2 separate regions of the Homo sapiens genome follow, and region 2 is linked to region 1. Evidence: fine-mapped expression QTL. A gene starts in region 1. The other region holds a variant in brackets. All regions are shown on one strand. Distances are from middle to middle. Region 1 holds the start of LINC02693 (long intergenic non-protein coding RNA 2693). Region 2 has its middle 45 kb from the start of LINC02693.

Region 1 (9,461 bases):
AAACATGCATGTGCAAGTATCTTTTTCATGTAATGATTTATTTTCCTCTGGGTAGATAACCAGAAGTGGGATTGCTGGATCAAGTGGTAGATCTACTTTTAGTTCTTTAAGGAATCGCCACACTGTTTTCCATAGTGGTTGTATTAGTTTACATTCCCACCAACAGTGTAAAAGTGTTCCCTTCTCACCACATCCACACCAACATCTATTTTAATTTTTTGATTCTTTTATTATGGTCATTCTTGCAGGATTAAGGTGGTATCGTGTTGTGGTTTTGATTTGCATTTCTCTGATAATTAGTGAAGTTGAGCATTTTTTTCATATGTTTGTTGGCCATTAGTATATCTTCTTTTGAGAATTGTCTATTCATGTCCTTAGTCCACTTTTTGATGAGATTGTTTGTGTTATCCTGAACAGCTACAATTCTTTGGCTTGTTATTTTAGTGGTTGCTTTAGTGTTTATAGTGCATGTCTTCAACTGATCACAGTCTACCTTCAAGTGATAATATATCATTTTAGTATAAGAAACTTACATCAGTATACTTCTTCCCTCCTAGTCTTTAAGCTATGACTGTCATCCATTTTATTTTACATGTTGTAAATTCCATAGTACTTTATTATTTTTGTTTAAACAATTATATTTTAAAGAGGCTTAAGTAATAATAACAAATCATATATTTGTCCATGTTGTTACTATTTCCAGTGTTCTTCATTCCTTTGTGCAGATCTAGATTTCAATATGGTATCCTTCTTAAGGCCTAAAAGACATCCTTTAATTTTTCTTGTGGTGCAGGTCTCCAGGTAAGAAAGTCTTAAGTCTTTACAAGTCTAAAAATGTCTTTATTTCTTCATATCCATTATTCTCTTTTTGGTAGTATCTAGTTGGCTGTGACACTAATCCATTAAACTTTCCATTTCAATTATGGTATTTTTCAAATCTAGATTTCTATTTGGTAATTTTTCCCAATCTACTTGGTTATTTTCATACTCATGCTCTTTAATCCCCTTGTTTCTTTACATGTAAGACACACTTTATGTGATGTTTGGTGACTCTAATATCTTAAGTCTCTGTAGGTTTTCTCCTCTGTACATTGTTTCTGCTGGCTCTTGCCCATTATAAATGTTTGTGATTTTTGATTAAAAACTTACATTCCATGAAGCTGTCTTCCATTTTGCTTTTGCCAGGCACCTGGAAGGCATTAAAAACCTGATGTCACTTTAAATTTGCAGCTTGAGACTTTTTAGATTATACAGTTTGTGTGTGAAGCCACCAGTGGAAGGGCTGCCCATGGTTATATATTAATGTATCCTCACTCTCAGGAGGGATGTTTTCCCTCAGGATGGATAATCTTGTCTGCTGCTCCAGGGGCTGCAGGGATTGAGGGGGCAGGAGACAGGGGAGGCAGACAGGTTGATTCATAGTTCCCTCCTACACTAAACCTATCTTTTTGGTGTCCTACTTTTTTTTTTTTTTTTTTTTTTTTTTTTTTTGAGACAGAGTCTGGCTCTGTCGCCCAGGCTGGAGTGCAGTGGCGCAATCTCGGCTCACTGCAACCTCCACCTCCCGGGTTCACGCCATTCTCCTGCCTCAGCCTCCCGAGTAGCTGGGACTACAGGCGCCCGCCACTACGCCCGGCTAATTGTTGTATTTTTAGTAGAGATGGGGTTTCACCGTGTTAGCCAGGGTAGTCTCGATCTCCTGAATTCGTGATCCGCCCGCCTCAGCCTCCCAAAGTGCTGCGATTACAGGCTTGAGCCACCGCGCCCGGCTGGTGTCCTACTTTTGATGTCTTCTGCTAACCGTCCTACCTTGGACAGGATCTAAACTTTGTCTGCTATTCTGCTGCCCCATCCTCTTCCCAGACTATGAAAAGAGAGTTTCAGTATGACACTTGGCAACTATCTTAAGGGTGAAAAATGGCATCTAATTACTTCTTTGGGTTTCTACTTTCACTTTTTAATTTTAATTTTTTTGCCTTTGCGAACTCTTAATTATTTTGCAGCTCATTGATACATTTTTTAAAATGGTTCTTGATATGTATTCCAGAAGTTTTTGTTGTTTTCTGGTTCTTGTCAGCCCATGTTGCCGGAAATAAAATTCTTTCAACTTGTTCTTTAACAATTTACAGTATCCATATATTCCTTCCTGTTCTAGAGGCAATAGAGTGAGAACACACACTTAGGAGCCAAGCTGGCCTGAGATTAAGATCCACCAGCAATGTGACCTCAGTAGCCTATTTACATTCTGAGTCTCATAGGGTTGGTGTGATAATTAAATGAGGTAATATATGAACAACACTTAAAACAGAGACTGACACTGGTAAGGATGGACTTTCTTGTTATTACTATCTGAAAAAGTTGAAAAATTATGAGCCTGAGTAACAGTTATACATCTTACCCAATGGTTCACTAACCTCTGGTCCCTGGCTACCCCGGCCCCCTCTACCATGCAGTCACCCACACCCATGCTTATACTGATGGAGAGGAGTCAACTATGAGCTATTCACTGGATGACAAGCCCAGCTACTGTCACAGGTGCACCCCAAGTCCAGGACAGAATGCTAGCAGATAGCTGCTGGTCTGAGAAATGTCATCATCATATAAGCCTGAGTGAAAACACAGCCCCTTTACTACTAAGAAATCTGAAAACAAACAAACATAAACAAACATAATTTTAAATTTTGTATTTTTTATGATGTCATTTGTCCCAACAGCCATCTGACATCAATAGCCCTGATTACTAAAAGTCTCAACGTTATAGAAATGTTCTCCTCCTTTTTGAAAACCATGTTCATTTTTCCCCCACGATACAGCGCTATCTGCAAAGCCTTGAACTGATAACATAGCTCAGGGGCTAACTCTTGTCTTAGCAGAGTAGCAGCTGAAAAAAGAAGACAATTCTTAACAAACAGGGAGATCAGGAATGCTCACTTCTAAAAACATTATTTATTCAGGGCAAGTGGTATTTGTGACGTGCGAATGAAGCTTAAACTTCAGCTTTAATTTATAAGAATTAGGAAATGCAGATTAAATCTCTGATGCCATATTGTGAATTCAGTAAAGGTTAACTAATCTACGACGCAAAGACAAACGTTAGCTATCCTACGCTTATTATTCTGGAAATTTAATGAAAATTAAACAAGAAGACTCACAGAGTATAAGAATTGTCCCCCCGCCTTAACAGTGTTGTTTTCAGCCTCTGTTGCCTGAAACATTGCAGAATAATTCAGATTTTTTTAACCCCACCTTTTTATTGAGTAAAACCAAAGTACTAAACTAATAAATGTGAAAAAGGATGTTGGGTTTAAAAAGAAAAAGCCTCAAGACATCGAGCCTCTTAGATATTTTAAAAGTGAAGACTGAGAAGGAACGCACTGTTGCTAAACAGAATTATAGGATTATGGTCAATTTATAATCTTTTCAATATGGGATTTGAATGTTCTGATATTAGATACCGTGTACGTGCTTTATTTATATAGTACCTCCCGAGAAGAAAAAAACCAGTATTGGTTTATACAGTATTTGGCATGCTATTCACGTATGCAGTGATGTATACGATGTCAGAGCTAGAAAATAGCTTAGATACGATTTGGATTCAGCGCTGGGCGGCTCCGCCCCCGCCAAGCCCCGCCCCGTCCCCTCAACCCCGCCCGGCTCCGCCTCGTCCCCTCCGCCCCGCCCCGTCCCCTCCGCCCCGCCCCGTCTCCTCCGCCCCGCCCCGACCCCGGGGCATGCGCTGTGCGCCCGGCCGGCGTGGCTGGCTGTTTGAGGACTGCGCGCGGAGCTCCGTGGCGGGTGTCTGAAGTCGTGAGTTTACTGCTTGTAAGGAACATAGCGATCACTGGGAACCTGGAAGTAGAGACTCCTTTCTGCCATCCATCCGTCCCTCGGGCTGCTGCGAATCCCCCCGCCGGCCTCCAGGACCCCGGGCTGACTGAACGCCCGCACCGGTCCCGCCGCCCCAGGGCCCGCTACGCGCCCGGCATAATGGGAGAAAAATCACGACGGAAAGGCCCAGCCCCTCGCCATGCAGACGGGAAGCTTGGCCGCACGTGTGATCACCCTTACGCCCCTTGGAGTTTCACCCCCTCTTCGCGGGCTCCAACAGCCTGGGTCAGGCCTCCTTGTCCTGTGTGGGCCTCTCGGCTGCAAGAACACAGTCCCGAGCCCCGGCGAGCCCGCGCGCCTCCCACCCGCCGTGCACAGGCTGCACTTTACGCCCCAGCACTGCGCCTGCGGGACCATCTGGATCGCTTTTCCATTCTGATGACGTCCTGTACTTCGTGGCTGCAGGCTCCTCAAGCCCCAGGTCTGTGCAGAGACGAGCAAAGCAGCAGAATATCCGTGCCACAGCTTTCTGGAGCACCCATTTTACTACCAGATTTGGAAGGAACGAAGTTAAGTAATTTCCAAGGTAAGTAATTAAAATTTTACGATGAAAAGGCTAGAAACTCTTCTGCTGGTAATAACTGTCAGACATATCTGTGCCTGAAATGTCAGACTTTTTCTGAGAAAAAAACTGAAAACTTGTTTCCCATTATTTTAAATAGGAAAAATTATAGGGCACAACAAGTCAATAGAAAAAAACCTACCAATTTCCTAACTCACAGTGTGGCAGTAGGTTTAAGTTGCACATAAGTTAGGATGTAAAATGCTTAAATGTTGCCACTTGGTCACCCACATTTGATATGGTTGTTAACATGCATTTGCCTTGGATGCAGTAGCTGTGCGACCAGCAACATCACACGTGAACCTCCCCTTTGTCAACACACCAAAGCTTTTTGAAGTGACTGTCATGATCCTGATGGTCTACCAGTTGTTTCTGGAAGGAACATGTGGTTTTTTCCAGCAAACTATTTAGTTTAAAATGTTGTAATTTTTGAAAGCTCAAACATTATGTCTACAACCATCAGCCAAAAAATTTGAGACAGGTTCTTGCTCTTTTGCCCAAACTGCACCACGAAAGGGGTTCCAGCGATCCACCTGCTTCAGCCTCCCCAGTAGCTGAGACCACAGGTTTGTGCCACCATGCCTGTTAATTTCTAAATTTTTTGTAGAAACTACATCTCCCCACATTGCCCAGGCTGGCCTCGAACTTCTAGACTCAAGCAATTTTCCTGCCTTGGCCTCCCAAAGTGCTGGAATCACAGGCGTGAGTCACCAACCGCACTCAGCCTGAAAAATGTTTTGTGAGATAAATAGCTGCTATACAGTTTAGATATTAAAAACTAAGATGTGTTCTTCCAGGAAAGTTATACTTTCAGATATATTCTGTGTCACATCCTGTATGATGAAATAGATGGCAAAAAAAAAAAAAATCCCATTTAATTTAAAGATGGAAGCTGTAACTTCAAGTAAATTTGGAGCTGAGGAGTCCTTTCGGGCTATGACCCCAGAATTCTGGGGTTCTCTGTACTGATTTTTTGCTAGTGTCCACACACAAGCATTCCTTAATGCTGTGCATTAAACAAATAGACCTTTTTTAACCCCAGGTTTCTCTCCATTTACCATTCTGTTTCTCTGCTCCATGCAACTTCCTCACCTCATGTCCTCTCTTGCACCCACTCCTTTCCAGCTTTCCTCCAAGGTACTTTGCTGAAACGACTTTTATCTCAGTCATTTAGCTGCATTTGACACAGACGATACAATTGAGGAGTTCCACCCTTTCTTCTGGATTTTAGGGACCTTCCCTCCTGGATTCCCTCTCACCTTTATCCTCATCCTCCTGCTCCTCCTCCACCAGATCTCTAGTGATCCTCTCAGAATGATCCCACACAGTCTCATAGCTTTAAATACCATCCATCTGTTGATAACCACTAGGCTTGGGGCCTCTTCCCTGAGGGGAGCACCAAGAGTCATCCCTGACTCTTTTCCCTTCTCCCCCAACCCCCATGCAACCACACAGCAAGTCCTGTGGCTCTTGAGTGCAACCAGCATCCTGATTCACCATCTCCATTTCCACAACCAGTTTCAGTCACCTTCCTCTCCTACTGGGCTACTGCCAAGAATCCTCCAACCTCCCTGCATCTTGTCTTGCCCTGCTACAGTCCAGCCTCCACTCAAGCATCCAGAGTGATCTCTTGAAAATGTTAAAACATGATATAGGCATACCCCCACCCCTGTGTAAACCCTGCCACTATCTACTCATTGCAGTAGAATAAAAGCTCAGACAACCTGGTGCCTGCCTCTTCAGCCTCATCTCCTGCCCTTGCTTGTTCTTGCTATGTGGGTCAGATTTTCTGGTCTCCAGAGCTGAAAACAATCTTAACTGACAGACGTTAGATCATAGACTTTATCTACAGCATAAGGCATGGAAGGAAAAGTCTGAGAGAATGAAGGGCCAGAAAAGCTTGTTTAAAAAAAAAATAAAAAGCACAGGAAACTGGAAACGTAACTAACCTGTATGTATATACTTAAAAGAACATGGTAACAAAATGAACTCTTTAGAAACTGAGCCAACAGACTTGCAAACAAATAGAAATACCTTTGGTCCTACTCTGAAAACAAGAAGAATCCTTAGTGAGTATACAAGAACAAAAATTGTACACATTTCTGGGTCATAATGCAATAAAACTAGAAATAATCAAAAGAGAATTTAAAGATGTTCAGCTTCCTGAAAATGTTAAATTATCCTTTTAAACAAATTAATGCCTGCATCAGGGTGCAAATCCAAAACACAAATACCTTGCCTATAAAAATATATTTTTGCAAACAACAGTGTATCGGGATGTGAGGAGAGAGCTCACTGACTCAAAAGCTCCCAGAGTGACCAGATGTGTTCATGGGAACCGGAGCACTGCCCTGGAGTCATTTGACATCACCTTATTACAAGTAGGAACAGCCATGCTGGGAGATGCTCAGATGCCAGTAATAAGTCAGAGGATTCCCTCCTGAATGGGACCTCCCAGTCCTCTTTGGCACAGGGTTCCAGGCAGTGACCACAAATCCATCGGTGATGGCTTACAAGATCAACCTGCCCTCAGGCAGTGGAGTGGAAACTGGCACTAGCAGCTACAGTGGAAAAAATGAATGGCCTCTAAGAATATGTCATCTGCCCCATGCAAAGATTCTGGATCCCAGAAGTCCTCCTAGTAAGGACTCGGAGCCAGACAACTTCATTTCCTGTCACCTGGGCTGCTCTCCCTCTGACAGCTATGGAAATTGGTGAAGCACAGGAACGTATTGGAAATGGCAATGATGTGCCATGCCAATGTGTGGAAGTGTACAAGTTAAGTAATATTTTAAAAACAGAACACACAACAGTTTGCACAATCCGACCAAAGCTCTGTCATGTATGTTTCTAAACAAGTTTGGAAGAGAATTTGGAAATGGCTGAAATTTTTTTATAAAGCTTATGTTTTTAGTTTGTTTAAATGTAAAAGCATACACTTAGAAACAAGTTAGTATGTAAAAATTTTTAATCTTAGCTATCTGGAAGCTTCAAATACTTAGAATGAGGCATTTCCCAAAGGTATCTGTAACTTGAATTTTACCGTAGTTTGAAAACTCTTGCCCAGCATAATGGCTTACAGCGGTAATCCCAGCACTTTGGGAGGTTAAGGTGGGCAGATCACTTGAGCTAGGAGTTAGAGACCAGCCTGGGCAACATGGTGAAACCCCATCTCTACAAAAAATTTAAAAATTAGCTGGGAGTGGTGGCACTGCTGATAGACACAGCTACTCAGGAGGCTGAGGTGGGAGGATCCTTGAGCCCGGGAGGTCTAGGCTGCAGTGAGCCGTGATCGCACCAGTGTACTTCAGCCTGGGCAACAGTGCCAGACCCCGCCCCCTCCCCTAGAAGAAAGAAAACTATTAGTTCATAGTGCAGTTGATGAAATAATGTACATCCACAAAGAAACAAGCAATCATAATATGTATATAATTACTCAGTATTAAAATATTGTGTATAGTATTACATATATTGAATACCTATAATGAATGGGGCACTGCTTTAAGCACTTTATACTCATTATCCCACAAGAATTCTCTCTCCAGCAGGTCTTAGTATATTCAATTTAAAGGCTAATTAGTAAGCAATATATAGAATTGAATGAGAAACTACTTAAAACATAGAAGGCTCTCGAAAATACAATGTGGAATGAGTAATGCAAGTTACAGAGATACACAGCACATTTATAGAAAGTGTAAAAACTTACAAAGTTAAACAGTATATTATTTAGAGAAACAATATATTATTTAGAGATATTATTATGTAATAAAAGTATAATGAAAGTCAGGGAAATACTTTTTGTAAAGCTTCAGATGAATGATTGTCCCAGATGGGGTTACATTTCAGAAGGGCCAACCATGCAGATGGCTTCAAATGTAGTGGTGCAGGTGATGGGTACAATGTATTTATTTTACTTTTATGTGAGTCTGTGTATGTGTGTGTGTCTGTGTAATTTTGTATGTATAAAATAGTTCGTAATAATTTTTTTTTTGAGTTGGGATGTTTCTCTGTCTCCCAGGCTGGATTGCAGTAGCATGATCACGGCTCACTGCAGCCTTCACCTCTCAGGCTCAAGTGATCCTCCCACATCAGCCTCCTAAGTACCTAGGACTACAAGTGCGCACCACCATGCTTGGCTAAATTTTTTAAATCTTTTGTAGAGATGGGGTCTCACTCTATTGTCCAGGCTGGTCTTGAACTCCTAGCCTCAAACAATCCTCCTGCCTCAGCCTCCCCAAGTGCTGGTATTACAGGGTAAGTTGCTGTGCCCAGCCTAATTTTTTTTTTATTTTTAAACAGCTTTATTGAGGAAAAATTCACATACCTTATGATCTGCTAGGGTTTAGTATAATCACAGATATGTGCAACCAAAACCATGGTTAAGTTTACAACATTTTTATTAGTCCTGTACCTTTTAGCTATCACCCTGTTCCCCCACCCCTACCCCAGCTGTAAGCAATCACAAATCTAGTTTCCATCTCAATAGATTTTTCTTCCCTGGGCATTTCATATAAATCAATCCATATAAGTGTTTTTTCATGTCTGGCTTCTTCACATTTGTCTCATCCAGAAGGTGCCTGAATTTTTCCACAACTGGGAATACTAAGCTGTGGGGTGAATTTTTGGTTCCCAAGTGAATGTGAATGAGGCAGATTGGAAGGAGAGTTCTTTTACTGAGGGAACGGGACAAGAACCAATGAAAGAAAGAGATCCAGCAGGAGGGGAGGGAGGAAGCGGGGTGGAGAGCTGCTTGAAGCAGATGAACAGAGCTCTGGGCCATGACAGCAGAATAGAAGGTGCCGTGCAGTGGGGTGCAGGTCCTGAGGGGGAGGGAGGGGGAATGTGGAAAACAGCAGGTCATAAACTCTGAATTCCAGCTGCTGGAGCTGTGGGTCCCAGGGGCCTGGTTATCCCCTCACAGGCAGGAGCTGGAAAGTGGGGCTCTGCTCAGGTCCAGGAAGGAAGTGGGTGCACGGGTGGTGTGGACATGTGCATGGAAGCCCACAGTGCC
Region 2 (9,461 bases), 46 kb before region 1:
CTCACCCTCTTAGATGAGAGGCCAGCAGGAGAGGACATGTGGGTCGGGTTCAAGAGTGGAGTAGGGAGTTGCAAGTAGCTAGTGCCCACCTGGGCATGGTCTCATGGGCCCTTGCCAGGAATGTGCATGCCTTCCTGTGGCCATTGTAAGGCTTTTAGCAGAGAAGGGAATGAGATTGAGAAAAAAAATCTCCATGGCCAGGGCTGCAAGAATGGCTAAGGTCCTTGGTGGTACCATGGGCACGTGGCAATGACCGGAGGTTTGAGAAGTAGAGTAGGCAGGGTCTGGTGGTCGAGGGGCATCTAAGGGAAATCAGACCGAGTTCTAGCTTCCCAGTTTGCACTCATGGGCAGACAGTGGTGCTATTTACTGAGGGGAGATGAATTGAGGAAGAGTAGGATGGAGGAAACACCGGGCCTGCCTGAAGGTAGATGCCAGACAAAGGGAGGAAAAGAGAAGCCTGAGAGGAAGAAGCAGGCACAGATCAAGGAAGAGAAGCACAAGAGTGCTGGCCCAAAGGGCAAGAAGTGTCCAGAAGAAGGGGGCTACAGAAAGGTCAAGTTAGATAAAGGCCATAGTACACTTATCCAATGTGGCCACCAGAAGGCCAGCTGGTCAAGGGTGTTGCTGAAGGCAGAGGACAGTGGGTCAGGAGTGAAGGTGAGGATGCAGATCGAGAGTGTAGACAACAGGCAGAAGGGGAGAGAGATGGTGTGGATAGAGGGGGTGTAGGGTCATAGATGGAAATATCCCCAAATTTAGGTGGATGGGCAGGAGATCATTGCTGAGAAGGGATCTCTTAAGAAAGGAGAGGTGGAGCAGAACAGAGGGGGCAACGATGTGAGGGTGGCAGTGACACAGGGTCATTGGAGAGTGGGGACACCTGTCTGTTGGGCATCGGCTCATGGCTTAGGGCAGGTTACTGGGCAAGCCCACAGACCCCTAGAAGAGAGGAGCTCCTGCCATGTATGGCGCAGTCTTGTCATTCACCATGCACTCTAATTTCACATATTGAGTACTTGGTATGTACTGGTCACTGTGTTGGACACAGGGGACATAAAATATGGTAAGACACATTCCCAAAGGGGCTAACAGTACTGTGGCCTCTTACTCAAAGGCTTGCACCCAGGGTTAAGCTTCTAACAAGTTGGAAGGCAGACATAGACACCTCCATTTGCCTTGAGTACAAACAGATGTTCAGAGAGGTTTAGTGACTGGCCGAAGGTCATGCTGCCAGGAAATGGCTGTGTCTAGGACAGTTCCAGGTCTCCTGCCCATAAAACCCACCCAGGCCACCACGTTCAGTTTCAGCCAGGTGGCCATCAGGGTTGACCACCCTGTTAGACTCGGCAAGAAGAATACAAGCCAAAGGCAAGCACATGCTCATTCTTCTGATCATCCTCTGTGTGCCCAGCCCTGTTGTGGGCATGGGCAGCAGGGAAGGAGACATGAATTCCAAATCGTGACCTTGCCATCTGCAGCTGAGGGTGTAGTTGGAGAATTTGATGTCCCAGGAGAGGGATGTCTCCTGTTTCCTGGCTCCCTAGGAGAGGGCAGAAAGCAAGCCCTCTTGAAGGAGAGAGAGGGTGGCAAGGGGAAGGTAAGCAGGGACAACTCTTCCCCTCCCTCAAAGGAGGCCACTCAGGAATCCCAGGGAAGCCAGGCAAAAGCCCGGAGAATAAAGGGGCCTCTGAGCCTCCTCTCCACTGCTGCAGTCCTGACTCGGGGATTTCAGGGTGCAGTCATCAATCCCGCCTCAAAAGGAGAAAGCCCAGGCCAGTGGAGCCTGGCTGCTGCAACTTCTTATACGAACAGCTCTGGAGGCCCCACATCTGAGCTGGCAGCCTGGACTGGAAGGAGCTGGGACCCCTTGTTCCTCCTCCTCTTCTGGGAACTGTGAGTGAGCCCTCACCCATGAAGGACCAGGAGAGGGCCACAGCAGTTTCCTCACTCTCTCCCCTCCCTCCTGAACTTCCACCTGGTCCTCCCCTTCCCCCATCCTATAATCCATCCAGTGACCCTTCCTCTCTGGATCCAGGCCCTGCACCCACTTCCTAGGTCAAACTCCAAGGGCAGCCCAAAGTCACTGTGATTGAGAGAAAGAAACTGACTTCAGGACAGACCCATCTGTTCTACTCCGGGGCCAGCTGGGGGCCTTTGGAAAGGGAAGCTGGTATCAGCAGGAAGCTGAAGCCAAGTTGAGGGGACTCCAGTGAGTCCCCTTGCCTGTGCTCCCTCCTACAACAACTCCCCCACCCCCAAGCTGGAGAAGCCACCCTGGGTGGTTCAGCTGGATTACGCCTGGCCCAACCTTTCCCTCCCCTGACTCACCTGCAGACCCAGGCTGACCCAGAAGCCCTGCTGCCTGTCTAGTGTCTGACCTCTGAGAGAGCAGGTTCTTGGGTCTCCCTCCATCTTCACTTCACATTCCTGTCCACCAAGAGCTCTCTCCATCCACCCCTCCCTTCCCTTCAGCCCCCATGGTCCTCTGGGGATCTCCCTGAAGGCTGCACCTGTTATTCACCTCTTAGTCCCTGGCTCCCTGCAGCCTGCAGGGGCCTGAGATGGGCACCAGGACAAGCTCATCTGCCCTGTCGCATCTTTCCCCAGCCACAGCAGTTGCCCTCATTCTAGATGGATTTTCTCTCCCCTTCCTAGAGCTGACTGTGTCCAGTAGAGGGAGGGGTGGGCATTAGTATGGAATGCCAGCCTAGATGGATGGTCAGTGCCAGGCTCCGGGACATAGGAAAGTCCATGGTCATGACCAGGAGTAGCTGATCACCAGGAATGCAGTTGGGGCTCCATGCCCGAAAGCTAGGGAGACTCAGAGCTGGATCTGGGCCACAGAGTGAGGGGACAGTGGCTGTTGGTTTATATTGAGGGGGAAATGGGGCTGACAGGACTAAGGCCCTGGGGCTGAAGGGCATAGGAGCTCTTGCTAAAATTTAGGAGGCTCTGTTTGGAGGAATCTAGTGTTGATAGAATTTCCAGAGCTGCTGCCTGGGCCAGGTAAGACCCACGGGACCCTTCTGTCCAGCTTAGGCTCCTGGTGGGTGCCTACCCTGTCTCATCACCTTCCTCCTAGCTAGAGGTCCCCTATGAGGCATGAAGGTGGTGGGGCAGAGGCCCCTGTCAGGGCCTTCATGTCTGCCTGGCGGCTGGACCACCTGGCCGGAGAAAGGAAGCCGAGGTAGCAGAAGGGCCTGCCTGAAGATCCTCTGAGCCTTCCTCCTCCTCTTCTACTCCTTGGCCCAGGTGGTTGTATAAATTACTATTCACCCTATAAAAATTGTTTAACTACATCATAAATATTTGGATAATGGGGGAAATCTCAATCTGATTACTGTTAGCATTTTGGTTTCTTTTCATTTATTCTCCTTCCTATGTGTGTGTCTTGGGGATTTCCCATAAGGGCATCGCAGAGTACTGATGATTGTGCATTCTGCTTTTTCACTTACCGTATTCACCTAGTCAGCCAGTGTCAGCTGCTGTACTGTACCAGGCACTAGAAACCAATAAAAAAGTGTGATTCCTACACTCAGGTAGCTTATTTTCCAGGACATATTGGCCATCAAATCCAGTTAGGATGTGGTATGCAGATATGATATCATATGGTTATGATATGATATGGTACATCTTCAAGAAGCTGTGTCAGGGACATGATGGAGAAGCCACTCTCCCAGGATCTTGTCAGCAAGAGGGAAATCCAGGAGTGCTTCCCAGAGGAGGAAGGTGTTGACGGAGGTGAATTCTAAAGGATTCTACAGTTCCTTCTCATGAAACCGTCTGGACCTGGTGCTTTTTTCAGTGGCAGATTTTTTTCTCGTCAGTGGTAATTAAGTTTCTACTCATTATCTAGTTCATTAGGGGCACTTTATATTTTACTAGGAAAGCATTCATTTTCTCCAAATTTGTAAACTCTCCACTTTTAAAATTTATTATGAATTTCTTTGTGGCCAAATGATTTTTCTAAGATTTTCATAGACATAGAAAAAATATATATTTTCTATTTAAGGGATATAAGGTCCCATATATACCAAATCAAGTTTTTGGTTATTCAAACTGTCACTTCTTTTGTATCCTTTGGGGGAGGAGGCTTTTACTGTAGTTCTAACAGAGATTTAGCCTTCCACTCAAATTTTGTCTATAAATCTCTTCTTTTACTAGTTTTTGCTTTTTGTATTTACTATGATGCTGTGGGGAGCATGCAGATTTTGAGTGTTCTCTATAATTTTCTCTATAAATTTTCTCTATAAATCTCATCTTTTACTAGATTTTGCTTTTTGTATTTACTGTGATGCTGTTGGGAGCATGCAGATTTCGAGTGTTCTCTCATTACGAATTGTGCCTATCATTACATGGTGTCCCTCTTTATCCCATTTCAGTGCTTAACCTTAAATTTCACCCTTCTATTATTATTATGGCCACTCTTTATTTTACTTTAGCTTTTGCACTTTCCTGGTATCTCTTGGCATTCTTTTATTTTCCACCATTATCATTGTTTAAGTGTTTTTCTTGTATATATACATCACTGGGTTTTTTTGTTGGTGGTGGTGTTGATTGAGACAGGGTCTTGTTCTGTTGCCCTGGCTGGAGTGCAGTGGCAACATCACAGCTTGCTTCAGCATTGACCTTCTAGTTTGAGGTGATCCCCCCACC[T/C]CAGCCTCTACAGTAGCTGGGACTACAGGCATGCACCATTACACCCAGCTAATTTTTTGTATTTTTTTTTCTTTTGGAGAGACGGGGATCTCACCATATTGCCCAGTTATCACTGTATTTTTAAACCCAAGCTGACCTTTGTCTTTTAATGGGAATTCATCTGTTTACATTTCATTATACAATTGATCTACTGTAGTTGATTTTATTTCTTCTGGCTTATTTTACATTTATTGGTTTACCTTGTGGGTTTTTTCCTCTGGTTATTGATCACTCTAGTTATTAATTTCCTTTTTCTAACCTTGTTACTCTTTCCATTTCATTATTGGCATCTACCCCTTCTCTGGAGTTCCTAATCAAACACATATTCTTTAGCATGTGATTCCATGGGGATTTTTTTTCTCAGCACTGTCATCTGGAGCTCCAACCTGTTGGTCTATAGACTCAGGTCTTTCTTTCTGCTTCAGTAAATCTATGTGTTGTTTGATTTGATTGTTGTTTTTGTTGTTGTTGTTTATTTTCTCTCTTCCCCTTTCTCCTTTCTTTTCTCTTCCATTTTCCTTTTTCTTTCCCTTCTCTTCTCTCTCTTCTCTTCGTTCTCTTCTCTTCCTCTCTCTTCTCTCCCTCCCCTCTCCTCCCCTTTTCTCCCTTCTCTCATCTTCTTTTCTTTTCTTTCCCAGGATCTCAGTCTGTCACCCAGGCTGGAGTGCAATAGTACAATCATAACTCATTGCTGCCTCAACCTCCCAGACTCAAGCATCTCTCCCAACTCAGCCTCCTCAGTAGCTGGGACTACAAGTGCATGCAAAAACACTTGGCTAATTTTTGTATTTTTTGTAGAGACAGGGTCTCACTATGTTACGCAGGTTGGTCTCAAACTCCTGGGGTCAAGCGATCCACCCACCTCAGCCTCCCAAAATGTTGGGATTACAGGCATGAGTCACAATGCCCAGCTCATTTAATCTTAGTTTGTGTGTTAATCATTTAACCTTCATCATTCCCCAAATCTCTCTTTAAAACTACCTTATAAAGATGTAAATCACTATAACTCTTATGTCTCTTCAACTTTTTTATATAAAGTGACAACTCAAAATACACTTTTCCATTTAATGTTATTTAATAAAAACCATTCTATTTTTTATGCTAGTATCTCCATTTGGCCATAAAACAATATATCTAGAAACAAAGTGTGAGCTTCAACAGAAACAATGATCTACTGTTTCTATCAACTTTTTACTATCCATAACCCTTCGCTTCCCATCTATCTTCCTCAAACAAATTGAAGTTAATTATCAACTTGAAATTTCTAGAGCTTATGCAACTTCAATTCATTTGTCTTTCCCTTGCTTTATTCAGCTCTACTGCCAAAATTACAACCTTGGTTAAATGCAACTGTCTGTGTGTCTAATCCTTGCCAGCACCCATGCAGCTGAACATGCCCAAAAGAACAATATAGCAATGATTTTCAACATTTTATATCCAGGCCAGAACTCTCCCCTGAGTTTCAGATTTATATGTTTAAATGCTTACTTAACATCTCCAATTAACTATTTAATGGAAATCCCAAAATTAATATATCCACAACTGTCAAATTCTTCACCTACATCATCTCCCATTTTACAAAAATTCCATTTTTTCCTAATGAATATTTACCATAGTCATCATTTTGCTCGAATATTTCCTCAAAGTGGTGCTTACCTTAATCGTATTACTAAAACTTTTTCTAAGCACTTCATTTTTCTGCCCTGCTTTGTTTTCCTCCTTAGAACCACCTGATGCACTGTATATTCTACTAATACACAGTTTGTTTCTCTTACCTGCTAGAATATAAATTATATAAGACCAGCGATTTTTTACATCATGTTTACTTTCCAATGCCGTACCAAGATCAGTAACCGACACTGAAACAAAGGTAGATTATTCAATTTTTTAAATGTGTCCTGTGGATTACTAGAACTGCAAAACTCACTTCAATAAGTCTACGACAGTTAAAAAATACATTCATGACACCTTATCTTCTTGGGGAATTACAGTGATTTCTAGTTTTTAAAAGTAAGAAGACATAAACTTCAGTTTGAAACCAGGACTCATCATCCCATAGTTAGAGTTGGACTTCTTTGTGTGCTCAGGGACTACAGAGAGGTCAGGGGTGTTGGCCTCAGCCTCTTTGACAAGGGAAGCGGGCACTCTGTGAGCTCAGGACCCCTGTCCCTAGCTAGCCTGGATGATGGCAGAGTCTGGCTCAGCCAGGTCCCTGGCCTGCACAAAGCCAGTGGCACCAGGTGAACATGCCCAGCTCAGTGACTGCCTGGAGCAGGTGTGGGGCAGCCAGACCCAGTGGGTATGGGCTTGGGAGCCTAGCCGCAGAGGATGAGCAGGACAGGGGCAGTCAGACAGCCCTTAGAAGGCCGCCATCCCTGAGCTGCAGGAAGAGATCCCCTCATCCAGCTCCTCCCCAGGGTCCCACTCTGGATCAACAGGAAAATGTAGCCCCTCAAGTGGTTGTGCATAACTGGACAGATGGGAAACACGCAGCTGAAGGCCATGTGGATAACCGCCTGCTGGTATCCCAGTTGACATCCCAGTACCACATATCGCTGAAACCCAGGTCACCACATCACCAACTGTCAAGTCGATGTGAACTGTTGATTGTTGACGAGTCCCAGGATCTTTTCTGCTCTTGAGCCTGACCATGAGGTAGTAGATGCCAAAGTCAGGCAAGGATTGCCAGGCCTGATGGAGGCACAGATGGGCCTGGTCGGTAAGAGCCAGGCCACATTCTGAGGGCTTCCAGGATCCGTGGGATGAGCTGCTTGGCCTTGAACTTTTGTGGAAGTGCAGGGTTGGGGGTGTGGAGGGAGTACCAAGACCACAGAGGCTGAGGCCCCTGACAACGGCGCCACTGCCCTGGGGGTGGTTGCCGAACCCGGTGCCTGTCTGCTGGAAGGCCTGCACCTCGCTGGCGGCTGTTCCCTGCACGGTGCAGCCCCTCCTGGGAAGCCAGCGGCAGCCCCTGCAGCATGCACCCGGCTGCTTCTGCCCCGCAGGTGGGGGTCGCTTGCCTCCGGTGAGTTGGATGCAGAACTCACAGCCAGAGACACTAACACCAGAAATGCCGTCACAGCCCTTGAGGTTGAGCTGCCTAGGGTGTGGGGCAGGTGTGCACTGGAGCGTGGCCTGGCTCTCATGGCAGGATTGCATGGGTTCCTTGAACAGCTCCCAATGCTGGCCTTAGCCCTTCAGGGTCAGCTTCTGGGGCTGGGAGATTTGGGGACACTCCTTGACTTATGTGACAGTGGCCAGGCTTCCAGCCCTTCTGTGGGTACCTAGCCCTCCAGCTTCTCCTCCAAGCTGTTGAGGGCTGCGTCCAGGCCATCCAGCCGAGTATCCACAGCTGGCTTGCCCATCTCCCCTCTCTGAGACAGCCTCTTTCCATAGGACTGCAGGGATGAGACACCATCAACCCCTCCTAGATGCAGCCCAGCCCTCCAGCAGCAGATCTCACTGAACAGCTCGCACAGCGGGGTCCAAGCCTTAGAAGTCTTGGGGCTGAAAGCGCAGCCAGAGGCGCCTGGCCCTGGCGCCCCGTTAAATGAGGCACGGCAGGTACCAGAGCCCTCTGTGTAGCAGGGATTCGTCCAGCGGGCGTTGGACCCTGGCGGGCGAGGGAGGGTCAGGCGGCGTCGGTCACCGGCTCAGCAGGTGGTCGCAGGCCTGGGTTGGCCACTGTCCCAGAAGTGAGCCAGCCTCCCCGGAAGAGCGCTGGAGCGAAGCTCCCCGCTAGGACCACCTTGGTCAGGTTGCACACCTCCTCGTCCGGTTCCTTCTAGTCTCAGGGGCTGGAGTGGGGCTGGAGGCAAATGAGCCCCACCTGCGGGGCAGGAGCAGCTGAGTGCATGCTGCAGGGGCTGTCACTGGCTTCCCAGGAGGGGCTGAACAGTGCAGGGAACAGCTGTCAGCGAGGTGCAGGCCACCCTTGGCCTTTCAGGAGACAGGCTCGGGACTCAAGCAACCACCCCCAGGGCCTTGGCGCCTCCGTCAGGGGCCTCAGCTTCTGCAGCCTTGGTGCTCAGGAACTGGAGTGGAGCCAGCTCCGGGACGCCGGGCACTGTGGAGGCTGTAGGTGGCGGCCGCGGCCCAGAAGCACTGACGAAAGCGCCTTGACAGATCAAGTCAAAATGTTACCGAGGGCCGGGCGCGGTGGCTCGTGCCAGTAATCCCAGCACTTTGGGAGGCCGAGGCGGGCGGATCACGAGGTCAGGAGATCGAGACCATCCTGGCTAACACGGTGAAACCCCGTCTCCACTAAAAATACGAAAAAAATTAGACGGGCGCCATGGCGGGCGCCTGTAGTCCCAGCTACTGGGGAGGCTGAGGCAGGAGAATGGCGTGAACCCGGGAGGCAGAGCTTGCAGTGAGCCGAGATTGTGCCACTGCAGTCCGGCCTGGGCGAAAGAGCAAGACTCCGCCCCCCAAAAAAAAATGTTATTGAGAAGGCCAGTTCATTCTCTAGGATGCCAGTGGCAAACAAACATGAGGATGACCAGGGAGACGAGGATTTTGAGTGCTTACTTTATAAAGTGTCTATAATATCTGCAGCAGAAGAATTTAATGGCAAGTTGTTCAGAAGATAAGCCTGGAAATCTTAAATGTCCTATACTCCTTTTTAATTATATTGTATGTTACATACTCTTTGGGGCAAGAATGATGGAGATTATGGAAGTGGAATAAGGGCTTTCCCTCTCTGTTTGCTTCAGACCACTTCTTTGTTACCATTATCACAATTGGTACAGTTAGCTGGATGT

The links.
Region 2: its variant is fine-mapped to the expression of LINC02693 in monocytes (TOPMed, PIP 0.91).

What each region holds. Positions count from the first base shown.
Region 1 is chr17:21,545,949-21,555,409 of GRCh38, reverse strand. It overlaps LINC02693 (long intergenic non-protein coding RNA 2693), which reads left to right and starts at 3,732. Exons shown (of 2, transcript NR_160801.1): 1 at 3,732-4,414. RefSeq lists a silencer at 3,669-3,838.
Region 2 is chr17:21,591,816-21,601,276 of GRCh38, reverse strand. It overlaps the pseudogene LOC100533653. Among named protein-coding and RNA genes, the nearest start is that of LINC02693, 45 kb to the right of the region's middle. The variant T/C (reference allele first, on the strand shown) is at 4,660.